Homo sapiens: one gene and its partners. The protein of the gene in region 4 purifies or fractionates together with the protein of the main gene of each other region. This does not show direct contact. Each region holds a gene or a part of one and is shown on either strand. Other genes may lie near its edges. The genes, in order: ACBD3, RAB18, CDKAL1, SLC28A3 and OGN.

Region 1 (4,335 bases), on a different chromosome or scaffold from region 4:
TATGCATACAAATTACTGTACTTACAAAGAGCTTTGTGAGGCCAGGCACGGTGGCCCCTGCCTGTAATCTCAGCACTTTGGGAGGCCAAAGCGGATGGATTGCTAGAGCTCAGGAGTTCAAGACCAGCCTGGGCAACATGATGAAACCCTGTCTCTACCAAAAATACAAAAAACTAGCTGGGTGTGATGGTGTGCACCTGTAGTCCCAGCTACTTGGGAGGCTGAGGTGGGAAAATTGCTTGAGCCCAGGAGGTAGAGGTTGCAGTGAGCTGAGATCAAGTCACTTCACTCCAGCCTGGGCCACAGAGCCAGACCCCATCTCAAAAAAAAAAAAAAAAAAAAAAAAAAAAAGATGGCTGGGCGCAGTGGCTGACACCTGTAATCCCAGCACTTTGGGAGCCTGAGGTGGGTGAATCACCTGAGGTCAGGAGTTCAAGACCAGCCTGGCCAACATGGTGAAACCCCATCTCTACTAAAAGTACAAAAATTAGCCAGGCATGGTGGCACATGCCTGTAATCCCAGCTACTTGGGAGACTGAGGCAGGAGAATCGCTTGAACCCGGGAGGTGGAGATTGCAGTGAGCTGAGATCGTGCCATTGCACTCCAGCCTGGGCGACAGAGCCAGACTCCGTCTCAAAAAAAAAAAAAAATGAAAGAGCTTTGTGAATAAGAATTCTCTGTTCAGAAGTTGGTTGAGGTAATGTATTTCTCCTGGCTTGCCTATTAGAGAGCTTCTAAAAGGTGGTTACTGCCTAGTCTGAACCCTCAGCTGATGATAGTTTTGGGGTTATATTGGTGTTGGGAAGATCACTAGTGAAAATGGCAGGGGTTCATTTCTAGAGGTAAGAACCTTAATATCCTTGATCTTAGTTCTAATATGTCCCTCAAATGAAAGATGGCATTCCCTGTACTTGTACCATTCCTAATCATAAAATGATTTGCAGCTAAAACATTTTAGCCTCACAGCAGTGAAGCTTTATCATTCCTAAGAATTGTTCATTACATGAGCGTCACTTCATCCCATTTAAAGATTTAGCTCACAAATTGTATTTGTCCATATGCCTTAGAAGCTACTGTCCTACCGTGTCTTGTATTTCATATGGTAGAAGAGTCTGAGTTTTTTGGGTTTTGGTTTGGTTTTTCTTCCTTAGGTCTTGAAAGGTAGACAGAGGAGTTTGCTTTCTCTGAAGAAGCATGGATGGTAACACATCCTCCTGTTTTAATTCTCCATTTTCTTCATTGTTTACAGGTCCTAAACCTTGGCTTAAATTCATAAAAGATGCCTTTTCATCTATCCCAGTAATCTTTAGTTTTATAGATTTAAAACAAAATTTGAGTCTTGAATCAATGGACCAGTCTATTTCTTGGATGTCAACAATAGTGTACATTTTGGATGGTTCTGTATTTCTCATTTGCATGTGAAACATGCTTAATTATAGGTATTTCTGTGGTTAAGTAAATCTGGTTTTGACCTACCTTTATAAGAGTGCCATCTGCTTTTTTAAAATAAACTTTTAATTTTAGAATAGTTTTAGATTTACAGAAAAGTTACAAAGATAGCACAAAGAGTACCCATATACCCTGCACCAAGTTCCCTCTGTTGTTAGCATCTTACATTGTACTGTGGTGCACTCATCACAGCTAATGAAACAATATTGATACATTGATTCATTAATTAACTAAAGTCCATATTTATTCAGATGTTTTTAGTTTTTACCTAATGTTCCAAGATCCTTTCCAGGATGCCACATTATAGTCAGTCATCATATCTCCTTAATCTGCTATAGACGGTGAGAATTTCTCAAACTTACCTTGTTTTAAATTCCTGATAGTGGCCATTGACAAGCATCACTCAGTGTGTTGCCAGAATTCACTCTGCCATGTTATAAACCTGAAAATCCATGCCTGTAGTCCCAGTCTCTTAAACAAACAAACAAACAAAAACAACAACCATAAACCCGAAAGTCTTGTCTTCTGTGCTGAATACTCCCTTGACCTCTTTGAGCTGGTTTGTATTAAATATGTTAAACTGTGACTTCGAAGCTGGTTCATAATTTTCTCATTCCTGTAGGTTTCTAGAGGCATTTTTTTTCCTAACCTCATAGCATTACAGTTCAAAAAACTCTTAACCGGGGCAAACCTTTCAGAGCCCATTTTTTGCCACTTAGATCATCTCTGGGTTAAATTGGCCTAGTGAAAATAATTGAATTTTCAGAGTATCTCTGAATGCCTATCTCTCTACTATGATTTTTTCATTTTACTGCTTATATTTAAGATATACAGAAAGCAATAGTCCTCACAAATCATCTTCCATCTTTCTAAAATGGGGAGGACTCATATTGGTCAGAAGGAGGATGATGAGAGCAACATTTTCATGTTACTCAGATGAGTGAAATTCCTGAGGATGAATTAGGAATTGAATGGCTATGGAAAGGGGAAAATGGGACCTTGAAATAGGAATGGTAGTAAGCACAGAAAGAGATAGGATGCTGACCACTGCTACCACTAGATGTTCATCACTGGGCTCCCAGGGCTCAGAACAGGGTTTGGTGTATAGCACATACTTAGGTATTTGAATGAATGAGTGAATGAATGAATGAATGAACGAACTAATAAATGCTCACATGCACATAACTTGTTAAATGGTTCAACAGAATTCCCAACAAGAGCAGTTTCTCAAAGAAAGGATAGGCTGGGCACGGTGGCTCACGCCTGTAATCCCAGCACTTTGGGAGGCCGAGGCAGGTGGGTCACAAGGTCAGGAGATTGAGACAATCCTGGCCAACATGGTGAAAGTCCATGTCTACTAAAAATACAAAAATTACCTGGATGTAGTGGTGCACGCCTGTAATCCCAGCTACTTGGGAAGCTGAGGCAGGAGAATCGCTTGCACCCAGGAGGTGGAGGTTGCAATGAGCTGAGATCACGCCGCTGCACTCCATCCTGGGTGACAGAGCAAGACTCTGTCTCCAGAAAAAAAAGAAAGGATAGATTTTAATTGCCTGATGCAAGTGTGGTTTTCCTGAATCTGTTCATTGACTTGTCTCTGTTCTTACAGAAAACATCGGTTGTGAAGAGAAAGCCAAAAAGAATGCCAACAAGCCTTTGCTGGATGAGATTGTGCCTGTGTACCGACGGGACTGTCATGAGGAGGTGTATGCTGGCAGCCATCAATATCCAGGGAGAGGAGTCTATCTCCTCAAGTTTGACAACTCCTACTCTTTGTGGCGGTCAAAATCAGTCTACTACAGAGTCTATTATACTAGATAAAAATGTTGTTACAAAGTCTGGAGTCTAGGGTTGGGCAGAAGATGACATTTAATTTGGAAATTTCTTTTTACTTTTGTGGAGCATTAGAGTCACAGTTTACCTTATTGATATTGGTCTGATGGTTTGTGAACTCTTGCTGGGAATCAAAATTTCCTTGAGACTCTTTAGCATTCATACTTTGGGGTTAAAGGAGATTCCTCAGACTCATCCAGCCCTTGGGTGCTGACCAGCAGAGTCACTAGTGGATGCTGAAGTTACATGAGCTACATGTTAAATATTTAAAGTCTCCAAAATAAAACACCCCAACGTTGACCTTACCCGGCTGATGGTTAGCCCCTTGCTGCCTGCTCCATGTGTCTTATGAGAGCCCGTAGTTACAGTGTCCTCTAATTTGAAATCCATAAGTTAACAAGTCTATATCAGGTGCAGCTGGCTTTGATTAAAGGCCATTTTTAAAACTTAAAAACTCAACACCTCACAGATTATAATAGAAAAAGAAATGGCCTCAGTTTGATCTCGTTCAGAATGACCCAGATTGTTTCTGCTTTGGGTGCAGCTGTTTAGTTCAGAGTTATATTACAGAGAATTATTTTCTGAGATAATCTTAAACTAGAATGTTCAAAACTAATTGATAATTGAAGTATCAAGATACGTAGAACACCTCAGAGATTTTTCTTCAGGAACTTCCACAAACTTTGAATCCTTGTATCTTTATTTGGTATTCATACTACTAGTAGCAAAATACAGGTTTTTTGTTTTGTTTTGTTTTGTTTTGGCTTCATAGAGTATCTCAAATTGAAACTTTTCTGCACAAAGAATAAAATTAAGGATTTTATAAACTCAAATTGGCACCTACTGAATTAAAATACATAAAATCATTTAAATATAATTCAGCATATGGGAAGTAACATTGCACTAATATGGAAATCACTGCCAGAGACAGTCTATTTTCTTTTAATTTGTTACTACTTAGTCACAAACCCCACATTATTCCAGTTTGGAATTACTTATTAAGGAGAATTGGAAATACATATGCCCATGCTTAAATTTTATAGCTTTAATTT
Region 2 (4,904 bases), on a different chromosome or scaffold from region 4:
TCTTTTAAGTGTTTTCTATGTATCTCCTTTTGAGAAAATGCATATAACCAAGCCATTCTTTATTACATGTTATTTCTGACTCATGTTAGGGTTAGTGAACAATGTACACTAGGTAGAAAATGTAAATTTCATAAAGCAGGGACTCATCTGTTTAATCACCAGTTTAACCATTGTGCTGAGACCAATTCTTGAAAAAAGGCAGTTGCTCAGAATTTGTTGAGAAAAAAAAAAAAGAATGAACCTATTTAACAAGCCTTTACTTCCGGGCCCAATTCCTTCTCTCTCTTGTCTTTCTACCATCCTTGGACTATGGATTCAAGGTACCTAAGATTATACAAAGCAGCTCAGCCCACCACCTGTTTTATTAAATAAAGTTTTATTGAAACACAGCAGGCCTATTTGCTTACGTATTGCCACATGGCCCACTTCAGGATTGGACTATTTCCTATCTGGCTCTTTAAGAAAAAGTTTGCAGTCTGCTGATGCAAAGTAACCTAAAGAAAAGTAAAAGTAAAAACATGTATCAAACCTCAACTTAGCTACCAGTCCCACTGCTGTAAATGAGGGTTTGTTATGGGACAAGCAGAAGCTCCCCCAGATATAAAAATGTTAGAATAACCTGTAAGAGGTTTATAAGATTGGAGAAGAATTCAAACCAGGGGCGTGAGGGGCTTCAGCAAGACAGTAGGGAGGATCTGCAGTCATTTATAACCCCAGAAGAGAAACTTAAGAGGAAAGTAACGTTTCAATGTAAACCACTTTGAACATTCACCACTCTTCCACAGATACACTTACATAAATTTGAAAGCCTTTCCTTCCAGATCCTTACCACCACAGAAACTAATCCCCACCCTGCCATGCTTAAGTGAAGAATTAACAGATTTAAAGTAAATGTTCTGAACAGATAAATTTATAAAATAAATAATTTTTCTCTTTACAAAAATTCTCTCTGCCTCTAAGTTTCTTACAAAACCTGCCTTGGATTTTAAAATTATTCAATTTGCATATTTACTCACCTTTTCAAGAACAATAATATAAATTAAAAGCTGTTTAAAGCAAAGTGAACTTGCTATATAAAGCAGATTATAACTTTGATAACATGAGACAAGTCAATATTGTAGTCCATTAATCATTAATGAAACGGTATATGGATGCCCAGTGATCTTTTTTGATCACTATGCTCAAGTAATCAAAACCCAAATTTGCAGGGAAAAAAAAAGTAATCAACTAGAAGCCAAAAGATGTAACTACTATGCATATCATAGTAAAATGATTACTATGTGTATCAGTAAAAGTGTCACCACTTTTAGGAAGCAATTGGTAATATATATAATAAGAAACTAGAAATGCTCTTCATAGCCTTGTACTAGTACCTATTTCAGACAATCTGATTCATACTCAATAAAAAATGTATATTTTTAAATGACAAATCATTATGAGAACGTATCCTAGCTATCTGCTTACATGCAAAAAATGACAAATTAGTAATATTCAAATTATTCAGTATCCAGATACATTATAACTTTGAGAACTGCACCATGTTAAGCATTTAACTTTTAGTAGTACAGACTATCTGTTTTAGAGAGAAAGAAAAAAAAAAAAGAAGGAAAAGCCATTACTGAAAAGACAAGCCTTGGATTTGGAACAGTGAATTACTGAATTTGGAAATTTAAGAAGCAGCTATTTTTCTATACAGTGAATTAGTGAATTTGGAAATTTAAGAAGCAGCTATTTTTCCATACATGGAACACTGTTCTATATTCATAACAAATAGTTTGAGGCAAGGACCAAGTATGAAATATTTTAGCCCCAAGACTTTTTGATAACAGGAAGAAAGTTTATTCTATTTGCATAAGGAAACTGTATCCATAACTTCCAGAGCTGGCAGAAAAACAAGTGAACATGAACTTTGTTCTCTCTGGTCTTCATTGAGATCAACTTCAAAAACTGCCTTAATGAAACACAACATAAAAATCAGAACTGCAATTCCAGTTAAAATATCCATAAATCCTGATGTTTTAAAAGTAAAAACCATAGCAAGAAAGTTTTAATGTTGAAATATTACACTTGACTTTGAAACTTTGCTTGTGAATATTTATTAATAATTAGGCCAGATGTTTAGAGGCTTGCCATTTTTGGATTCACTTACAAAAGTGTTTAAATAGGTGTTATAATTTAGGGGGTGGAGGGAACCATGTGCAATAGCATCGCATCAGGATTTATAGTAACTATAAAGTGTATATGCTTAAATAGAAGTTAGATTGTTGCTTGTGTTTGTTTTCAAAACAGGAATATGTGGTAGGTATAATAACATCTTTGTAAGATAAATGAAGCACAGCTTTTTGTCTCTATCCTGTAGTTTTATTTTCTGATGGGGGAAGGAGAGAAGAAATTACTGAAAGATATATAGATAAACTCAGGGCTAGGAAAGATCTAGAAAGGCTTAATAATAGATGTAGGGAGTGAAAGTGAAGCAAGGACATAGGAAAAGGCAGTAGAAGAAAACAAGGTCATGATGAGTATGCACTTTCAGGAGGTAGGAGGGGCAGGGCTATGCTTAATTATTCTATTTCATCCTAGAAGAAGCTTCCAAGTAGGAGAGAAACTCATTTTATAAATAAAACTATAGAAGAATTAGGCAACTATGGATTCATATATTTCTAATACAGAGGAAACGCCTTCCTAAATACGTTACACCCAAATGCCATGATGAAAATAGCTGATCCAACCATATAAATATTAAAACCTTGAAATGACAAGAACACCCTTTACCTCCTCTTCACCTCCCCATCCCCATATTCATCCTTAACAATATTGGAAGGTAAATGACAAACTGGAAAAAAAAATCTGTAGCATATGGCAGTATTACACACACACACAAGAACACAAACATATATTCAACTGATACATGATTTTAAAGGCAAATGATAGCTTAGAAAATTGTACCACATGACAAAGAGCTAATAATTTTATTATATAAAGACTTTAATGAAGAAAAAGATGAATGCTAACGTATAAAATGGGTAAAATATGTAAAAAGAAAACTTATTTTTTAAAATGATCAATAAACAGGCAAAAATCTCTTATCAAAAGAAATGCAAATATAAGTAAAACAGCAACACTCAGAGGCAAAAACAGAAAGAATGATAACAGTAGAGATAAGGATGTGGCAGAATGAATATGAATACAATTGGTGGGAGTATAAACTGAAAAAAAAGGCTTTTTGGTGTACATTAATGTGAAGACTTCATATTCATTTCTACTTCCAGCTACACATTCTAAAGTAACTGGACAAGTACACACAGACGTATAAATCAGGATGCTCAAAGAGCTGTAATCTTTGTGAAAAGCTGGCAAAAATGTAAGTATCTCTCACTGAAGGCTGACTAAAGTACAGCTATGAAACGGAATACTAGCTGGCCATCTAAACGGATACAGCACATACTATGAGTGGGGGTGAGGTGGTAGGAAAGGAGGACAAACAGGTTTAAAAATGTAAGATATAATATAATCCCTTTGTTTTGGAAAACTCACATACTGGTATGTATAGTGGTATGTATACATATCCCTTGATATTTTAAAGAATGCTCACTAAAATGTATTCAGTGGTATACTTTTATAGATGTTCTTCTCTGCTCTTCTTATTGTCTCAATTATCCCTTTTAGAATGACCCTGTATTATTCTTACAGCCAGGGGGAAAACCTCTCTTCTTTAAAAAATGTTTATAGGCCTATGGTAAAAATGTCTCTTCAATAATACCTGCCAGCCTTTTTATTAGGCAGGAACTAGAAAATAAATTTAAAACAAAACGAAACTATGAGAGAAAAATCTCACTGCAACCAGCAAGTCTCAGATACTACTCTAATCTACGGATTTCACAAAGCAGCAGCAAGGCCGGAAAGGGATAATAAATTAACCATGAAAAGCATATGGAAATCAGGCCCCCACTTTAGTATGGAAAAAGCCAACATTCTTATATCGTTCAACACATTTTACCATACTCTAGTCCAACATTTTCCAAATTGTTTTCTGTTAGACATTACCGTTCTGATTGATATTAAACATATTTGGGGGAAAGGGGCAAACAGGTTAACAAATTTAAAGTATTGTATGTTAGGAAAAACTGACATAAAAACATTAAACACACTTACACAATTATTTGTTATTTGGGGATAAATGTGTATTAGAAACAGTGTGCCATTCAGAGAATGCCAAGAAATATGACATCATACAATGCATGAACACTTGCTGTTTTCAATCTGTGACTGATGTACAAACAGCATTTACCATTTAACCACCATGTGGAAATAAGTCTCGATTTGATGACTGATCAGTTCTAATATGATTTCTTATATTACAAACATATATGTATAATTATCACAGTCTATGTGAAAAATAGATATATAAAACAGTATATATTTAGAATATACATATATATATATAACCGATCATATTTAGATAGACAGATATAGATAGATCGGTATGTGGGTGGGTAAATAGACTGATGAAAGGGAGACACAGAGAGAGACAAACATAGACACTAAGCATCTTGGATATTTTTGACAGTTAATGCTACCTTATTTGACACTAGCATGAGCGGTCTAGCTAGTACAGTAACGGGGATCAGAATGGTTGGATTGACAGGAAAACGAAAAGAAGCCAGTAAGGAAAAACGAGGCATTAAAAATAAGCCCAAAGTTTGAAACCTCAAATTTTATAAATATCTATACTAACAAACAAGAAAAATAAAATTTTTTCCTAAATATCACGTCATTCCTCCTCCCCTTAAAAATTGTCTTTAGTGTTAGTTCAGTCTAGATGGTCTTTTTAAAACTTCAAAGAAACATATCCAATTATGATTCTCTTTGGCAGATGAGATGATTTTTTAATATTCTGTTCTGTT
Region 3 (5,554 bases), on a different chromosome or scaffold from region 4:
GCAGCCTCTACCTCTCAGGCTCAAGCGATCCTGCCACCTCATCCTCTCAAGTAACTGGGACTACAGGCAAAGACCAACACACCTGGCTACTTTTTAAATATTTTTGCAGGGCCAGGGTCTCACTATGTTGCCAACACTGGTCTCAAACTACTGGGCTCAAGCGACCCTCCCACCCTCTCTCACCTCGGCCTCCAAAGTGCTGGGATTACAGCAGGCATGAGCCAACACACCCAGCCTTTTTTTTTTTTTTTTCCTTAGGGTATTTTCTTAGCCAGGCACACAACTGTAGTCCCAGCTACTTGGGAGGCTGAGGTAGAAGGACCACTTGAGCCCAGGAGCTTGGGGCCAGCCTGGGCAAACATAGTGAGACCTGTCTCAAAAATAAATAAATATAAATCAATAAATAAATTCTATTTTCTTAATACTCAAACTACACCATCAGAATATGGTAAGGCAAGCCCAGGCTAAATTATACTAAAAATTACTAATGAATATAGAGAAGTAATTCTGAAAGCATATTTTGACCATTTTTAACTTAAAGGACAGAAATATTAAGACTCATTTTGCCATCTAAAGAATATGTTATAAAAAATACAAAATTAATAACATAAGGTATTTTAGGCCAGGCGCGGTGGCTCACACCTGTAATCCTAGCACTTGGGGAGGCCGAGGCGGGTGGATCACGAGGTCAAGGGATCGAGACCATCCTGGCTAACACGGTGAAACCCCGTCTCTACTAAAAAAATACAAAAAAATTAGCCAGGCATGGTGGTGGGCACCTGTAGTCCCAGCTACTCGAGAGGCTGAGGCAGGAGAACGACATGAACCCAGGAGGCGGAGCTTGCAGTGAGCTGAGATTGCACCACTACACTCCAGCCTGGGTGACAGAGCGAGACTCCGTCTCAAAAAAAAAAAAAAAGATATTTTAGTTACTGAAGGAAAAAGGGTGATACAAGGACTAGGTTTCCAATCCTCCTTAATCATTACATGCTGTCTTATAGCTAGGACTTGCCAATTACACATGCAAAGGCAGCCATGAGGTACAGAACAATGGTCAGGAGCAGTGTTTGGAAGTGACAAAGGACTTCACTGCATATGTGATTTAAGATAAGACGCAACCTCTCAGGCCGAGCACAGTGGCTCACGCCTGTAATCCCAGCACTTTGGGAGGCCAAGGCGAGTGGATCACGAGGTCAGGAGATTGAGACCATCCTGGCTAACACGGTGAAACTCTGTCTCTACTAAAAATATGAAAAATTAGCCAGGCATGGTGGCGGGCACCTGAAGTCCCAGCTACTCGGGAGGCTGAGCCAGGAGAATCCCTTGAACCGTGAGGCGGAGCTTGCTGTGGGCCAAGATCGCGCCACTGCACTCCAGCCTGGGAGACAGAGCAAGACTCTGTCTCAAAAAAAAAAAAAAAAAAAAAAAAGACACAACCTCTCCTTTCTCAACTGTAAAGTAGGGGTGCCAATATTTCCTCCTACTCAAGGACTAAGCAAGATAACATACATAAAGCACCGGGTCAGTGCCTGTCACAAAGCATTCGAATTATAGTTCCATTTAGTACACATAATAGATACAGAAATAGCTACAGATGCGTGCATATGTGTGGGTTACTATTCATACATAATTCCTAGCTCCATCCCCCAAGAGGACCTCACAACAGCGACACCTCACGGTGGCAACGAGCAAGCATATTGACTGCCCAGATCCCCTTTTCTAAATGCCATTCTCTTAATGAAAAAAATCAGGACTCCTTGGAAAACTGGTTGCTTCCAAGACTGGGGAAGGGAAAATATGAGAGATTAGAACATTTTGTGGTGCCAGGAAATAAAGAAGTGCTCAAAAAAAAGATGCCGGCATGCTGAAAAGACACAGGAGCCAGCCTGAACAAGATCCTAATGGCCAAGATTGGAACAACAAGCAGCATAATACATAATGATAGTATCAGACTATATCCACAGGATAAAATAAATATCCATGAGTCTGTACTGATAGAAATAACTAAGACGGGCCAGGTGCAGTGGCTCATGCCTGTAATCCCAGCACTTTGGGAGGCCAAGGCAGGTAAATCACCTGAGATCAAGAGGTCTAGACCAGCCTGGCTACCATGGCGAAACCCCATCTCTAAAAAATACAAAAAATTAGCCTGGTGTGGTGGCGCATGCCTGTAATCCCAGCTACTTGGGAGGCTGAGGCAGGAGAATCCCTTGAACCCCGGAGGCAGAGGTTGCAGTGAGCCGAGATCACAACACTGTACTCCAGCCTGGGCAACAAAGCGAGACTCTGTCTAAAAAAAAAAAATTTAATTAATTAATTAAGATGGAGAAGAATGGACAGCTCTTCCTTAGAGAAAAACTCCAATTAATAAATGTAAAGAGGAGGCTGGGCGCAGTGGCTCACACCTGTAATCCCCGCACTTTGGGAGGCCGAGGCGAGTGGATCACTTGAGCTGAGGAGTTCGAGACTAGCCTGGCCAACATGGTGAAACCCCGTATCTACTAAAAATACAAAAGTTAGCCAGGCATGGTGGCATATGCCTGTAATCCTAGCTACTTGGGAGGCTGAGGCAGAAGAATCGCTTGAACCTGGGAGGCAGAGGATGCAGTGAGCTGAGATCGTGCCACTGCACTCCAGAATGGGGCACAAAGAGACCCCATCTCAAAGTAAATAAATAAATAAATAAATAAATAAATAAATAAATAAATATAAATGTAAAGAAAACAAGATAGCAGAAAATCACCATTAAGTAAACACCACAGTAATAACTGTTGCAGACAAGATCCACCAGTAGATACTAAAATTAACAGGCCAAAGGTTGAGGAGAAATAGGATGTTTATTAGTTGTAATGAGAAAAACAGTGACTGTATTGGAAAGAAACCTAGCAGACATGGGTTAGTGTACCAGTATAAGACACACTGACATCATGACCCCGATATGACGCACTGAGAAAAATATAGTATCGCTTCTGTTCTCTGCTTGCCAAAAACCCAGAACCTCATTCTAATCATGAGAAAAAGACCAATTCAAGTTGAAGGACATTCTACATAATAATCATTTTCATCAGAAATATCAAGGAAATGTTTTCTTCAGAAGTGTCAAGGTCACAGAAGACAAGAAAAAATTAAGAAACTGTCACAGATTGGAGGAAACTAAGGGGACATGAAACTAAATGTAAGGTGGGACCCAACATTAGATCTTGGGACAGAAAAAGGAAGTTAATGGGAAAACTGGTAAAATTCAAATACGATCTACAGTTTAGATAACAGAAATGCACTAATGTTAATTTCCTGGTTTATTAATGATATTACAACTACGTAAGATGTTAATATCAAGGGAAGCTTGGTGATGGGCATATGTGAACTCTCTAATTTTACTACTTTTCTGAAAGTCTAAACTTATTTCAAAATAAAAAGTTTTTTTAAATATGACATCCATGGTTATCTACAAAATGTGTAATAACTATCTGTTTCACCTTAAAATCACTGTCATGCTAAAATACCCTTTAACTGCTAGGCTATTTATCTCTAAAAGCTTAATTCTGAAAAATTTAATCAATAAAATATATTATAGATCTCATTACCTGTAATTTTATAGCCATAAGCAGCTAGCTGTCCAGCCATATATTCTCCATCTGAATTATTATGAGAACAACCCCATGTTCGTATCCAAATTTTCTGTATGCCTGGAATAGTGCTGTTAAGGAATCAATAAAAAAAAAAAAGTAAGTTTCATTGAGTGATTTTTTTTTTTTTTGATCCAGGGTCTTGCTCTGTTGCCCAGGCTGCAGTGCAGCTGTGTGACCACAGCTCACTGCAACCTCAACCTCCCAGGCCTAAGGGATCCTCCCATCTCAGCCTCCCAAGTAGCTGGGACTACAGTCATGCACCAACACACCTGTTAATTTTTCTTATTTTTTGTAGAGACAGTGGCCCACTATACTGTCCAGGCTGATCTTGAACTCCTGGGCTCAAGTGATCCTCCCACCTTGTCTCCCAAAGTGCTGGAATTACAGGCATGAGCCACCACTACACCCAACCTCATTGAGTTATTTTTAAAATAAAAACCACTAGATGATTTTAAGATATATTACACAAAAAACAAACTCACTACAATCCATTCAAAAGCTATTCATTAAACGCACCAACTTAACTCAAAATCTGTTGTTGTATCAAAAGTCTAAAATCAAGATAAAATAACCACAGAATTCTAAAAAGTTAACACTCCACATAAAAAAATATCCTTTTTCTCTGAATTGCATTTTAAATTCATACTACTAACTTACTAAGTTCAACTCCTGGAAAGGTACACAAAAATAACAATAGGAAAGAAAGTGGTTCTAGCAGCAATGGCAAATAAAGAAAAGTATGTCTGTTTACAGATTCCTACATACTAGTTGCAATCTGTAGCTTCCTTAAAACTTACAGATATAAGTAACTTAATCAAAGTTAAAAACCGTCATCCTAAAGCATTATTAAAAGCACTCTATAAAATCAGAGTTCTAAAAATAACTTTTAGGGGAAAAAAGGACTTTCAACTTGGATTGCTCTAATAATTTATAAGTAAATAAAAATTACCTTAAGGACACATTTAGGACAAATTTTATAAACTTCAGTCATTAAAATATAAGCAAATTTTAAATTCCAAGAATTTAAAAGCTTAGTTTCCCAACAAAATAAGCAGATTATAAAGTTCAGCAGTTGACTAGATAAACAAATATAGGCTTATTAAAACCATATAATTACATTATCCTTTCTGGTTAGGTTGTATCAAAATTTCACGGACTAGAGATCTACTATAATAGCGTAAATAGGGCAATAATTTATTTGTGCCCACTGCCTTTACCTGATCCACAGGTATTTGAAAATCAGCTAAGAAAATTCAAATGTCCAAAATACTACTGTCTCATAAGAATCACAAACTCTGGTAAAAATTTTATTTGGAAATAACACAGACTTACATATCAACTACAGTAATACCCAAGAGATCCCTATTGCCCGAGGCTATCTTCTAGGAACATCCAATTTGACATCTCATTTCTTTTTAACCAATTACCTTGCCAAATTTAAAATCATTCAAATAAAAAAAAAATCTACATACAGGTTGAGTTTCTTTAATTCAAAAATTCAAAATCCACAATGCTCTAAAATCTGAAACTTTTTGAGTGCCAAAATGATACTCAAAGGATGCTCACTGGAGCATTTCAGATGTTTGGATTAGGAATACTCAACTGGAAAGTATGTAATGCAAATATTCCGAAATCCAAAAAAAAAAATGTGATATCTGAAACACTTCTGGTCTCAAGCATTTCAGATAAGTGATACTCAACTTGTATTTCCTATCAAAAGTTCAAAGATTCTAATGAAGAGACATTATATATATCACACAGACCAGTAGCGTCAGCTTCTCCCTGGAATGAAAATGAATATAATTTCGGCCGTGCTCAGTGGCTCAGGCCAGTAATCCCAGTACTTTGGGAGGCCAAGGTGGGCAGATCACCTGAGGTTAGGAGTTCAAGACCAGCCTGGCCAACATGGTGAAACCCCATCTCTA
Region 4 (5,455 bases):
TATTTACTGAATGTCTACCGAATGCCAGGTACTAGGTACTGAAGATACATAAGAACTAGTATTCTAGAGGTTAGACATATGGACAAATAATCATGGAATGAGATAGGCACCCTGCAGTTGAAAGGATTTCATTTAGACCAGGGAATACTGCCCCAACTCTGCTCTTGGCCATAGTGATCTGTGGGTTTGCCAGTTCTGCATGACCAGAAGGTGGAAGGAGAGATGAAGCATTTCTGAATGACCTAAGGTTTTCCTATCCTCTTATTTTATGAATATTATTGGAAGCATGGCCAGTACTTGGAAGAGGTAGGCTCTAATTCTTTGTGTTCATATGGCTTGTAAGACTTCAGTTTTTTCCTAATCCTGGTTTCTCATGGCAAAGTGGTTGGTTGTCAGTGGCCAGAGGACTAAATTTCAAGGTTGTCACTTGAGTACTTTTCTCTGTTCTGTGGCTATAGGCTATATCCCTAATACCAGCCACTGTCCTTCCATTTTGCAAAATGCATAATGGTTAAGAAGGGCTGACTTGATGTAGGTTCACTGTTTAATCTCCAAAGTTTCCTGGAATGAAAATGCAAAGTAGCCCACTAATAAACAGGTTTAAAGTACTCATTCTATAACCAAGGAGCAGTCACATTGCCTTTGTGATATAAAGGAAAATATCATTGTCATCACAAGGTTGTGTAGTTTTTAGAGCTAGAAAAAGAAAAGTCTACGCTTTTCTTCCTGCTTGAGCTTAAAACAAAATTAAGTAACAGGCTGTAAAGAGCAGCCTTTCTTTGGACCATATGGTTCATTAGCACCACATGGTGTACCTGTACCAGAGACAGTTATTGAGTCCTACGCTCCTACCTTTGTAAAATGTGAGTGATTGCCTCCCCTTGCCCCACTCCCGTACAGTCAGGGTAACTTAATCCTTCCTGGCACACTGTGTCCTTGTTGGCTTATAATACCTTCTTTATAAGCATACTTGATTTTTGGAATTGTTCTGTAACTGGAAATCAGTCTTATTGGACAAGTGCACATCTTAAGCTGTTCACAGTGCCCTACCAGCCTAATTAAACTACAGAAATATGAAAGCAATCAAGTGGGAGCATTTGCAAAATGAATGCCTGTTAGTAATCTGCATAGTTACAGAGACTGTCACTTAGACCTAACTGCTGGGATATGTTGACTTTACCAATGGGAAGAAAAAAAAATCAGACAATGCTGTGTATCCCATGACTCAAATCTATTTTTGGCTGAGACCCTAAGGCCTCTCCAGGGTCAGAGAATTTGTTTATAACCAGTTTCTGGATTGCGAAGAGAAATATCATTTCTGCCCCTCTCCCTGTTTTTTGCAAACCAATAGAAAACAACACGGAGAATAAGCAGCAGTAAACTTCCATCTTCATTGAAATGAGGAAACACTCATATCTGGAACCATAATACTGTATACCAAAAGGGGCTTTCAGGTTAGCGAAAACTACCAGTGGGAAGACACAGGCGGCTAGGGGCTTTGGATTTCATGGGTGGACTGGACAGAGTACGGAGTTCTCCCAGGGAGATGTTGCAGCCCTGGCTTGAGGCAAGGTTGGGGAGCACAGACCAACAGCAACAATCTGTCAACAGTGAGCGGGCTCAAACAGCTGAAAAACATAGGCATGCCATCTTTGCCCACTATATGTACATGGGTGAAGGAGAAACTGGGGAAGACAAGCAGCCTCCAGCTTCTATGTCTACTAAAGAGGAATAAAAACATCACCATGCACCAAAAACCTCCATTAGGTTGTTTCACTGGGAGAAGGGCCACTTACGACGTTCACAGGGTATTGGTGAGGTTTCTGGGGGTAACAAGCTCAAGAGGCTTAACCAGCTCATTTTCCTGGTCCTTGGCCTTTACTATCCTCTTATAATATAGCTCAGGAATAACACCCCCTTTCTCAGTTCAAGGATGCACAGCATTAATAAGGAATCAACGTAGGACCTATGTGAACATGTTGCATTTATAAAGAAATGTCACACGTACACACAGAAAGGTCATATCAAAGCAGGTAAAAATTAAGACAACATATTTCTCCAAAAACCAGTCTGACATCTTATAATACCAGAAATATACACACACTTCAAACCTGGGAAATCATCCTATGAATCTGCTCTGACCAATATGGTAGCCACTAATACCTGAAATATGGAGTAACCAAGTAACAAATTTTTAAATTTAAAACTGATACTCATTTCAGTTATTGGAAAACTTTTAAGCACATTTAGACCAACATGGGTATGTAAATTTACTTTGCAAATTTAGATTTTATGAAATCTAAACATGGATTAAGTATTATCAGTAAAACTTTAGTGTCTCAACTGAGATATGCAAACCAGACAGACTTAGTTTCATAAGAATGAAAAATATCTTACTGAAATAATATCTCCAATGTATTGAGTTAAATATATTAAAATTAATTTTACTTGTTTTTTAGCGTGGCTACTAGATCTTAAATTACATGTGACTTGCATATGTCTATCAGACACTATTGCTATAGAAAAAAAAGCACCAGCATGCAAAGTAAATGTACATGCACTGTCCAGAGTAGGAAAAAGAGAACCCCCAAACCAAAACCTGTAAACAAAGTAAATGCATGTCCACAGAGGAATGGTATGATACATAAACATAACATTCTGTGGGGTATGATGAACCAGGACACCAAACATTGAGAATGGGGGGAAAACATGCAAATATATTTTCCTAAAATAAAGTCTGAAGACTGCAAGGGCACATTGAGCTCCAAGGAAAATTGATACAAATAATAAGAAATATTTTAGTATATCATACTTCAGGGATAAACAGTCCTCTGGACATTAGGCCTCCTCCTTCACCACCACAAAAAACAAAACACACAAAAAACCCCAACTATTTTCACATAGCTTTTTCTTTTAAATTACTCTTGTACACAAACAGAAGGAAAAATAGAAACAAAATAAATTACTTAAGGTATTTCAAAACCTTTTTCACATTCAGTGTCTGTTTCTTGACTTGGTAATTGATGTTTGTGTTTTCTCACAGCATGTGGTCTTCATGCTATTAAGAGCAGTGGTGATGGGCATTTCGTTAAAGAGCACACCACCATTGTCTCTGGAATCTTTTTCTTAGACACTGACACCCATTCTTCAAGTTTGATACTGATGCCATCCTGGTCAATGAAATTATCAACGCAAGGTTTTCAGAGCTCAACCAGGACTTTTTTTCCTCAACTGCTTCTTACACGGCTTTTGATTGAAGAGTAGCTGCTTTGTCACCAGGAATACATTACCAAATGTGCAGATGAATAGGCCTACCGTTATGGCCTACAACAGGATGGCTCCTTGAAGGGAGACATGGATATTATGTACCCTTATGGTGTATCATATTACTTCTGCAAAATATTCACTATCCCTCCCTATGACAGGATAATTTAACTGTGGTGACTGACATCGTGCCTGTCACAGGACTTGTTTTGGCTAATGGAATGTCATGGAAGTAAAGGGTATCATTTCCTAGCGGAAGATGAAAGAGCCATCATGTGGTTCCCACCTTTCTTTTCCCTCTTAAGACCAACATGCCCCCCTTAGAGGCTGCTCCTTTAGACTGGGTGCTGAAGCAATATGGATTACAACCAAGATGGATCATTACAAACATGTGAGTGAAAAATAAATCTGTAAGCCACTGAGGTTTTTGGGTTGTTTGTTTCTGTAGCGTAATTTATGGTTAAACTGACTGATAGAACTCTTAAGCAGAATGGATTTAAACCCTGGTTTTGGTATGATCCACGTGTTCTCCTCAAGGACTCTTGATTTCTGCAGGACTTCCTGAGGGTAGTCAATGAGTTGGTGATTGATGACTAGTTTTCCCTTATGTGAGATTCAAGTTCAGGCTATTTCAGGTAAGCCAAGGTATATGCAGAGTGACCTCACCTGAGATGTGCTTAAACTGAGTCACCCTGGACTACTTAGTGGACACTAAGTGGGTGTGGGTGAGTCAGAGCCCAGTTGTTGGGAGCGGCCGTTTATAGCTGTATTCTGGTGAAATGCCTTGCAAACATTAAAGTCAGAAAATCCCATTGAGACTGGAATCAACAACACCTCACTTTGGGACATCATAGCAGTTCTTGGTGGGGAAGGGGCTGGTGGGGAGGGAGGGGAGGAGGAAAATGTTGTAGCTTTGAAGGTCCACTCTTGTTTTTCTTCATTCCTTGCAATTAAAGCTGATTCCATTATGGAAGCATCAATCTGTGGACAATAGCTTCTTTTTTTTTTCTTTCCAAAGCAGAAAATTCAGCATCTGTACTTCAGAGTTCCACTGGAGAAGTGGCTGACCTCAAAATGTATTAGAGATCCCATTGCAGTTAAAGGTCGATGGATTCAACAATGTGCAGCAGCCCTTCAAAGAATACAGACTGTGGTTTCCTCCTGGGATGACTTCACCAGGACCCTTGGCAACAGTGCTGGTGGAAAGTGGAAAGAAACAGTTACATGAGCCATAGATGGCAGAAACAGTAGGTGAGCAGACAATGACATTAAAAATAGTTCAGGGCAGGAAGCTGATTTTCTTGCTCACATTCTGGTTAGGGTGGATTAAAGGACAGAGACACTGGGGAATTTGTTTTGGCTCCTAAATTCTGGGTGTCCTCAAGAACTTTCCCTATTTCCTCCATAACAAGCAAAGATAGGATAGAATCAATCCTTATAAAACACTTGCACATTAAGGATGGCACCTTGTGTGGGAACACTGATTTTGCAAATTAAAACTGTACAGGGTGGGGGTGGCTGGCATGGGTCACTGGTAGTTTCTTGTTCACCATAGACGATCATCGTGTTGTCTGGACAGCCTGGATCCCCTTGAAGGGGAGCCAGCAGAGGGTAGCAGTTAAGGGCATAGGCTTAGCAGGAAGATCAGCCTGAATTTTGTATCTCACTTGTACTTGTGCTAATTTTGCTGGAGTAGACATAGCTTCCCTAAGCCTTAATTTTGTGGAATGAAAAAAAAAAAAAAAAGATAGTGCCCAACTTATACAGTAGTTGCAAGGTTTAAGTGAGCTAATTCATACAAAGTGCGTAACACACAGCTGGGTGCATATTAAATGCTTGAGTAGCACTAGCTAGTGTTATAGTTGCTAGCCTTATCTGAGAAAAGTCAGAGTGAAAGGTGGTTAGAATCACTGCATAAGTTCTTACTTTTAAATAGAGTCATAAAGTTATAAAATTAAGTCGATGAGTGAGCGGAGATTGCGCCACTGCACTCCAGCCTGGGAGACAGAGCAAGACTCCGTCTCAAAAAAAAAAAAAAAAAAGTAAGTGGATATTTAGGTGTGATTTGATTGATTATTAATGGAGTATAAAGAAATTATAATCAAGAATACAATACCTGCTCAACAGACTTTGGCAACAAGCTATCACCTTGGTTGTGTTTCCAGGGAAAGTGGAGTTGAAGGCATTCTCT
Region 5 (2,406 bases), 8.1 Mb from region 4:
CTGAATGGTCTTTGTACTTTTGTTGAAAAGTATCTGACCCTATTTGGAAGGGTTTATTTCTGGGCTGTTTAATTTATTCTGTTGGTCTATATGTCTGTACTTACGCTAGTACCACACTGTTTTCCTTTTTTTTTTTTTTTTTTTTTTTTTAGACAGAGTCTTGCTCTGTCGCCTAGGCTAGAGTGCAGTGATGCGATCTTGGCTCACTGCAACCTCCGCCTCCTGGTCAAGCGATTCTCCTGCCTCAGCCTCCCAGTAGCTGGGATTACAGGCACCCGCCACCACACCCGGCTAATTTTTTGGAATTTTTAATAGAGACAGAGTTTAACCATGTTGGCCAGGCTGGTCTCGAACTCCTGACCTCAAGTAATCCACCCGCCTCAGCCTCACAAAGTGCTGGGATTACAGGTGTGAGCCATTGCGCCCAGCCACACACTGTTTTCATTACTGTATCTTTGTTGTAAATGTTGAAGTTAGGAAATGTGAGTCTTCTATCTTTATTCTTATTTTCAAGATTCTTCTCTTTATTTGGGGGTCTCTTGAAGTTCCATTTTATTTGTGTGAAAGCATCATTGAGATTTTGATGGCAACTGTGTTCAGTCTGCATATCATATTGGATAGTATTGTTGTCTTAACAACATTAAATCTTACCATCCATAAACACAAGACATCTTTCCATTTATGTATGTCTTTAGTTTTTTTCAGCAATGTTAGTAAAAAGTAAATCATTTAAAAATTTAAAGCCTCTAATTATTAGTGTCAAGAATGAAACATTATGAATATAATGGAGACAGCATATTTTTACTTTCTCTAATTATTTCGTCTGATATCTTCTGAATCTTGGTGGTATAATTTGTATTGTTTATTTTGTTTTATTTGTGATTTAAGGTTGTGTATATGAAGGTGTAAGGTATGCATGTTCATATATATCCTCTTATCTAGAAATCCCCAAATTATTTCTTTAATTCTGGAATTCATACCTTTTACCAATGTTCTTTCTCCCTTATCATTATCTTATCTAAAACTACTGACTTTTGAATTTTTTCTTAATTTGAGAGTTATTTGATGGTGTTTTGCTCCATAAGTTTTATCATAAAAATAATATAGGAATACATTATTTTTCTGAAAACTAGAAAGATGACAGTCATTCAAGATTATGATAGTTTAAAGATTCAATTTTTCCAAATAAAACAGAACCCTTCTATTTAGATGGATTTTATTTTGCAATATTTATTATATATTCAATTCAAATGTACTCACTATTGTGCTAGGCAATTGAAAGTAAAAAGTATAAAGCTGCATTTTGCGCTCTCAGTGAGGTTTAAGTCAGGGAAATGAGGCATGCACACAAAATAACGAGAAAGTAGTATAATAGCTGTGATCATTAGTTATCAAAATAAGTGAATGAGCTAATAATCATTGTTAGAATAATAATTGTGTTCTTAGATCTCAGATGCTTTAATGAAAAATGTTATCTTGAGGTCAACTTTGACAAATGGGGAGATAACTGAAAAACATCTGACATTCTAGGTAGGGAAAACAGAAGCAAATGCTTAAAAATGGGAATAAGTATGTATTCTGTACACAGAGACAACTTGATTTCAATACATACTTTATGGTGGAAATAATGTTTGTACTTTTACTTACACAGTCCGGACTCATGTTTCTAAAACACTGATAATTTTGTGTTTAACTTCAATGTAATGTGTAGTCTAATACTTTTAGTGGGGTACAAGTGAGAGGAATGTTATTTTAGAAACTTTACTCTGGCACCACTGAGTCATCATAAATTATTACTCTCAGATAGAAGATTTAATTCTTGCAGTTAGCCATGTCAGTTTATCATGAGTAATCAGAAAGTGTTACTCAGAAGCTTTATTGTGAATATTCAGTTTGTTACAGTGAACATGGATGTGTATGGGTGGGAAGGTAGTGTGCACTGGCACCACAGAATATTCTGTTTTCATCTTATGCTTGAACTAATTTATTGATGAGATTCTCATTTCTGTAGTATAAAAGGAAAATATTTTGCAGTTATCTCGTATTTGAAAGACTTTGCCATAGAGAACTTTATCAGAAATGGATGAACTTTTCATTATTTCTTATAAGCATATTGGTTTTGGCCTGCTTGAGTTTAAAACTTTTTTTGGTAGACTTAGAATGTTAATATTTAGATAAAGAAAATATTTTACTGAAGACATTACCAGAAAGTAAAATAACTTGAACATTTCTGTATTAGCTCTTTATCAGAGAATAACATTTATTTTATTTGGAAAGTTTTCCTAAATATGAGACTATCTGCTATTTCTCAGACTAAGTGAAAAATTTAATAAAATAGCTGCCTTGATAGGAGGAAAACAAAGTTCTTACTTTATAAGGAATAACGTATGAATCATAAAAGAAGAA

Evidence for each region.
Region 1: the proteins of SLC28A3 (region 4) and ACBD3 purify together in Homo sapiens (affinity purification with mass spectrometry; one large-scale study listed by BioGRID and IntAct). This does not show direct contact.
Region 2: the proteins of SLC28A3 (region 4) and RAB18 purify together in Homo sapiens (affinity purification with mass spectrometry; one large-scale study listed by BioGRID and IntAct). This does not show direct contact.
Region 3: the proteins of SLC28A3 (region 4) and CDKAL1 purify together in Homo sapiens (affinity purification with mass spectrometry; one large-scale study listed by BioGRID and IntAct). This does not show direct contact.
Region 5: the proteins of SLC28A3 (region 4) and OGN purify together in Homo sapiens (pull-down; one study listed by IntAct). This does not show direct contact.

What each region holds. Positions count from the first base shown.
Region 1 is NC_000001.11:226,145,546-226,149,880, reverse strand, and holds part of ACBD3 (Golgi resident protein GCP60), read left to right. Parts: intron 1-1,812; exon of another isoform or gene 1,813-1,878; intron 1,879-3,059; coding exon 3,060-3,271; 3' UTR 3,272-4,335. UniProt on the Homo sapiens protein: Involved in the maintenance of Golgi structure by interacting with giantin, affecting protein transport between the endoplasmic reticulum and Golgi. Involved in hormone-induced steroid biosynthesis in testicular Leydig cells.
Region 2 is NC_000010.11:27,527,119-27,532,022, reverse strand, and holds part of RAB18 (ras-related protein Rab-18), read right to left. Parts: intron 495-4,904; coding exon of another isoform or gene 408-494; intron 1-407. UniProt on the Homo sapiens protein: The small GTPases Rab are key regulators of intracellular membrane trafficking, from the formation of transport vesicles to their fusion with membranes.
Region 3 is NC_000006.12:20,546,736-20,552,289, reverse strand, and holds part of CDKAL1 (threonylcarbamoyladenosine tRNA methylthiotransferase), read right to left. Parts: intron 3,698-5,554; coding exon 3,585-3,697; intron 1-3,584. UniProt on the Homo sapiens protein: Catalyzes the methylthiolation of N6-threonylcarbamoyladenosine (t(6)A), leading to the formation of 2-methylthio-N6-threonylcarbamoyladenosine (ms(2)t(6)A) at position 37 in tRNAs that read codons beginning with adenine.
Region 4 is NC_000009.12:84,273,885-84,279,339, forward strand, and holds the end of SLC28A3 (solute carrier family 28 member 3), read right to left. Parts: coding exon 5,381-5,455; intron 4,516-5,380; exon of another isoform or gene 4,461-4,515; coding exon 4,334-4,460; 3' UTR 1,573-4,333; downstream 1-1,572. UniProt on the Homo sapiens protein: Sodium-dependent, pyrimidine- and purine-selective. Involved in the homeostasis of endogenous nucleosides.
Region 5 is NC_000009.12:92,382,768-92,385,173, forward strand, and holds the end of OGN (mimecan isoform 2 precursor), read right to left. Parts: 3' UTR 501-2,406; downstream 1-500. UniProt on the Homo sapiens protein: Induces bone formation in conjunction with TGF-beta-1 or TGF-beta-2.